Linked DNA regions of Homo sapiens: region 2 is linked to region 1. The links come from fine-mapping of genetic effects on gene expression. A gene starts in region 1. The other region holds a variant in brackets. All regions are shown on one strand. Distances are from middle to middle. Region 1 holds the start of MYT1L (myelin transcription factor 1 like). Region 2 overlaps MYT1L (myelin transcription factor 1 like).

What was found. PIP is the estimated chance that this variant, and not a neighbour inherited with it, causes the effect.
Region 2: its variant is the best candidate, but not a certain one, in a credible set for the expression of MYT1L in testis (GTEx, PIP 0.81).

The regions. Positions count from the first base shown.
Region 1 is chr2:2,329,948-2,332,861 of GRCh38, forward strand. It overlaps MYT1L (myelin transcription factor 1 like), which reads right to left and starts at 1,328. Exons shown (of 25, transcript NM_001303052.2): 1 at 1,020-1,328.
Region 2 is chr2:2,183,745-2,186,658 of GRCh38, forward strand. The region is part of intron 2 of MYT1L (myelin transcription factor 1 like); the gene reads right to left. Among named protein-coding and RNA genes, the nearest start is that of MYT1L-AS1, 130 kb to the right of the region's middle. The variant C/T (reference allele first, on the strand shown) is at 1,427.

The sequences.
Region 1 (2,914 bases):
AAAACTTATAGGAATGCAATGCTGTTTTTTTTTTTGAAAAGGAATATTTTATAAAACTCTTTTCTTTTAAAAATAATTACATTTTTATCTGTATGGGAGACATGACTTTATTATTTTTAAAGCTACATGACACTAAATGAAGATGAACAATTAGAAAGACCCTCATATGCCAGTAAGGGTGGTTTTGGGATGCTTTGGTCTATGACGTTAATTTTGTTTAGTAGAAAATATAAACATTTGAACAAAAAGGCTCTTATATAAAATAGTTTTACTCTAAGTAACTTAGAAATTATTTAGCTTATATAGCTTTGATGGTACAAGAAATTGTCATGGTTAATACTAAATTCAAAATCTGTTCTCTATATTTTATATAGCTAACTTTCATATAAATATTTACATATATATTTTTGCTTTATTCAGATCTATCTTAAAACTAAAGTGTAGAGTTTAATCTTTTAGTTTATTAATTTAGGTGTTACAAAAAGACATATTTCTGTTATAAATAACATTTTCTTTCATTATTATGAACTTCAAACATTTAAGTTAAATTTAAAAATCTTTATTTGAGTTTCTCCACTTAAACAATATAAATCAACTTTCTTCTTACCATCAGGTAAATTCATCCAAAATAGCTAACATTTTAATTGCCTTTGCATAAAATGATGTGCTTCATTTGTAATGTAAAGTAATCCAGTAAAGTCTCTGGGAAGTTTTTGTTTCAGTATCCTCTTATCCTCCAAACACCATACATGCACCCCGTTTTGTTTTTGTTTCTTTTTTTCTTAATAAACAACATCACAGTTAAGTCATGCAACCTAATACCCATTTTAGTTTAAAGACAGATTTTTTTGTGGATTACAAAGCCTCCAGTCCAGGAACATTTCAGCTACCAGCCATGCTGTAAAAATAACTTTAAAAAGGAGCAGACAATGGAATAGCAGCCTCAGCCCTTGAGCTACGGTAAAACACATCCTGCTCACTAAGTTCCCCGAAAAATTAACCTAACGAACATCACGTACCTCACAATGACCACAACCGCTCACAAGCGAAAGACAAGTTCAATTTTGGTAACTGTGCTGGCTCAAAATACACAGACAGGGAAGAAAACCCTGTTCCACCACAAGTTTGAAAGGATGATGAGACACATGCATGCCACCAAGACGCAGAAAAGGTGGCTTTTTGTCTTCAGTGAGTATGGATATCATAACCCATAGTCCAGGGAATGAAAAAATTAAAATGCACCCACCAACAATGAGCAAAAAACCCGGGGTGCTTCAACAAGACTGCAGGGAAAAGCTCTCTCACTGTTTAGTGTGCAGTAGCTTAGGGAAAAAAAAAATGTCGCCCGGGCAGGAATGACAAATGCAGCGCGATAGGCTCGCAGGCCTCAGGGATCTGTTTGACTTCCACACACCCCCATGCACACGCTCCCACTCATCCTCTCCTAGGCTTTTTTTTTTTTCCACATTTTTTTTTCACAAGCTCCAAATCCCCGGCATATGACCTTCTGTTAAATAGATAAAAAAAAAAATTGCTTATCAGTCATGCAAATGAGGCTGAATTCATTTTCCACAACAGATGGCCTCATAGATAATGATGATGGAAGAGAGAAAATTGAATGTCTCTCACAAGGTGGCCATGGCAACCGAGAGCAGAATAATATCAATAATAAACTCACTGCATAATAAGGTTGTCAGTCCTACAAATCAAAGTCTCCAGCTAAATCAGGTATACCACCCCAGCTAGTTACCAGGTAAATAGTACACACACACACACACACACACACACACACACACACTTCCACAGAGTGGCTTGAAATCTTTCATGGTCACTGTAAAATGTGTACGTGTGTGTGTCTGTTGGTGGCAAGAAGGGGTTGGGGGAGAGAATAGTTGGATAATGAAATGACAATGTGACTTTTTTCTTTTCCTTTCCTTTCATTATGTTTTCTGCAATAGACTCGGTTTCATGCAGGACCTTCTAACTAGCCATATTGAAATCGGGATGCGGTGCTGAAGGCTTTCTCTCCTCCCTCTGCCTCCGCGCTCTCGCTCTGATGTGCTGCATTGATGCAATAGCAGCTCGCCTCAGGCTTCCACCTTGGCTCCCAGGGGGACATCCTGCAAAATGAATCAGCAGCCATCCTGAGCAGGCTGATTAAAATGAAAATGGCAAGGCACATGTCTGGGCGGAACTGGAGCTCAGCTTTGCTGCTTGTCTGGCAAGCATGCTCAATATAGCTCTTGCTAATAATGGCTTACTGCCTTTCATTTTTTAAAAAGGTATCACCCTTTTCCCCCTTCACTGACTGGTGTTGTCTGTGTGTGTGTGTGTGGTGTGTGTGTGTGTGTGCACGTATGTGTGCGTGCATGTCGCGGGGGGAAACGAGAATGGATGGTTCTATTCTTCTAATTTTCTGCTGCTCACATGCAGACTGCCTGCCTGACAGCACCATTATTTTAACACTGAACTTACTTCAGCTTTTCTTTTGGGACAGGGTGGGGGGGCGGTTGATAAGTCTTGGGGCAGAAGGGCTAGTTTTAAAATCAAGCTGCCTAAAAGGCCCAGACAAGATTTTTACACTCCAGATTCAATAATTTCTAACCAAATCTGAAGCAACAGACCTCGAGAGAACTCCGATGCTCTGCTTCACAGGCTCACAGTTGGACATGCTGAAACACAGCCTATGAAGAAACCTATTTCTGTTTCGAGCATTTGCAACCAGCCTGTTACTGTATCCTAGATATTATGCAACACAGAGAATTAAAACAGAGAAAGCTACTAGCTAATAAAATAATCGAACACAATTGAAAAAATAAATCTTGGATATTTTGTTGTTTAAAATTCTCAGGCATAGCTTCAAGATTGCCCTCAAATAAGCTTTACTTTGCAGCACCTCTGCCGAGTATTCCAG
Region 2 (2,914 bases), 150 kb before region 1:
GGAAGGGAGGGAGGGAAGGAGGGAGAGGAAGGAAGGAAGGAGAGGAGGGAAGAAAAAAGGAAGGAAGGAGAGAGACAAAGGAAGAAAAAAGGAAGGAAGGAAGGAGAGGAGGGAAGGAAAAAGGAAGGAAGGAAGGAGAGAGACAAAGGAAGAAAAAAGGAAGGAAGGAAGGAGAGAGAGGAAGGAAGAAAAAAGGAAGGAAGGAAGAAAGGGAGGGAGGGAAGAAGAGAAAGAAAGAGAGAGAGAAAGGGGGAGGGAGAAAGAGAAAGAGAGAAAGAAAGACAGAAAGAGAGAAAAAGAAAAAGAAAGAAAGAAAAAAGGGGAGAGAGAAACAGAGAGAGGGAGGGAGGGAAAGAAAAGAAGGGAAGGAGGTAGATGGCTTGAATAATGTAGGTCATGCTGAGGCTGTTCACAATTTTAAACGTCTAAAAAACACAGCTGATATCTACCTAGAAGGAATCACTAATAAATCATACTGTTTCAATATTATCTAAATATATTCTTATTAATGACATACAAAGTAATAAATACATTACAGTGTTAATGCATGTGTGTGTTCAAGAGAAACAAGTAGAAAGTAAACACAAGACAGAGTTCGTCCCTGTAGATTCCACAGTGAAAATGTGCAGCGCCCATAAAGGTTGGGACAGAACGGACGAAGGCCCTCAGTGCTTCCAATCCACTGACGTTTATTTTCAGGCAAAGGCCCATTTTAAATACTTTCTATCAATGTTAAAATGATGAGTTTAATGTGTCAAAGTAGCATGCTTTTAAAAATTGGGGATTTTTTTCATGGGATGATTTCATCAAGTAAAAATCTCCAGGCAAAAATATCCTACACTCCAATTTGCCCAACCTCCTCTGTCCAAACAAAGGAATAACACTCATCTGAGCAAGACCTCCTCTTCCCGCCTAAGCCTCCCCGCACCGCACGCCCACCAATGGGCTGGCGGCCTCTCCAGCAGAGCCGGCAGATTTCCCCAGCTGTGGGAGGAAAGCTCTGTTCTCTTCCTGTGATGATATAAGCCTCTCCTCATCCGTCAGCTTCAGTTGTAGGAGAGACTCCTGCCTAAATCGGTGGTTGGGGTTGGCTTGAGGTTTCCAGCTACCCAGAAAGGGACCCGCCAAGAGAGGCCGCAGCTCGGCACTTTAGCTGGCAACTGTGCAAAGCTCCACCCCATGAGTAGTTGCATTGCTTCGGGTAAGCTTCGCCACCTCTCTGGCCTTTACTTTTGTCATCTCTGAAATGCAAATAGTAATTGCGTCTACTTTAGAAGGCTTGTCAGAGGATCCACTGAGACAGCACAGCTCCTGCATTTAGAAAATGCCCTCATGCTGCAAACCTTCCAGTCACCAGCCAGCAACTCTTCCATATCCATCCAATAACTCTCTGTTCTGCACCTAATAAGCATTCCACTCTTATATA[C/T]AAGCCTCCTTATAAAAGGCCTAGACTTAAAAATAATAATAATAGCAAACACATTGAAGGTAAATGGGAATGAGGGCACTTTCAACACACAAAGCTTATATAACATATTTGTGCTATTTAATTAAAATGTAACTAGTCATTCAGTACTGTGTGGTTTTTGTTACTTCCTTGTATTTTAATAGCTCTGTTCAAATATGAGTAACTCACCACAAATTGTGTGGCGTGCAAACTAATATATTCACCTGATTGGCCTCCACACGTGAGGGGGACGCAGCCGGGCCTCCTCGAGTCCCGCGTTCCTTCTGTGAGGGGGACGCAGCCAGGCCTTCCGGGCCTTCCCGAGTCCCGCGTTCCTTCTGTGAGGCGGACGCAGCCGGGCCTCCTCGAGTCCCGCGTTCCTTCCGTGAGGGGGACGCAGCCAGGCCTTCCGGGCCTTCCCGAGTCCCGCGTTCCTTCTGTGAGGCGGACGCAGCCGGGCCTCCCAGACGCCCGCGTTCCTTACGTGAGGGGGACGCAGCCGGGCCTTCCGGGCCTTCCCGAGTCCCGCGTTCCTTACGTGAGGCGGACGCAGCCGGGCCTCCCAGACGCCCGCGTTCCTTACGTGAGGGGGACGCAGCCGGGCCTTCCGGGCCTTCCGGGCCTTCCCGAGTCCCGCGTTCCTTCTGTGAGGGGGACGCAGCCGGGCCTCCCAGACGCCCGCGTTCCTTACGTGAGGGGGACGCAGCCGGGCCTTCCGGGCCTTCCCAAGTCCCGCGTTCCTTCTGTGAGGCGGACGCAGCCGGGCCTCCCAGACGTCCGCGTTCCTTCCTTGAGGGGGACGCAGCCAGGCCTTCCGGGCCTTCCCGAGTCCCGCGTTCCTTCCGTGAGGCGGACGCAGCCGGGCCTCCCAGACGCCCGCGTTCCTTCCGTGAGGGGGACGCAGCCAGGCCTTCCGGGCCTTCCGGAGTCCCGCGTTCCTTCCGTGAGGGGGACGCAGCCGGGCCTCCCAGACGCCCGCGTTCCTTACGTGAGGGGGACGCAGCCAGGCCTTCCGGGCCTTCCCGAGTCCCGCGTTCCTTACGTGAGGGGGACGCAGCCAGGCCTTCCGGGCCTTCCCGAGTCCCGCGTTCCTTTCGTGAGGGGGACGTAGCCGGGCCTCCCCGAGTTCCGCGGTCATTATGTGAGGGGGACGCAGCCGGGCCTTCCCGAGTCCTGCGGTCCTTACTGGTTAACTGTAGTCCCGCACTGTTAATGTTTTTCGTTTTTTGAAGCCAAGATAGCGTGCTCACCGCAAAAGAAATATGGACCTCGATGAACAGATAATAGGGAGAATCTCATGCACCCATCCTGGAATTACGTTTTTAGCTTTGCCCCCATCACTACCATTGGAGGGAAGCAGCTTCTGCGAGAGGCATTTGTAAAGTCTCCATGTCTCCCCAAGAAGTCACGTTCTGCAGACCCGTCAACCATCCCATGTCCCGCCACTCCCTCTAGTAAATAAGGATCCTT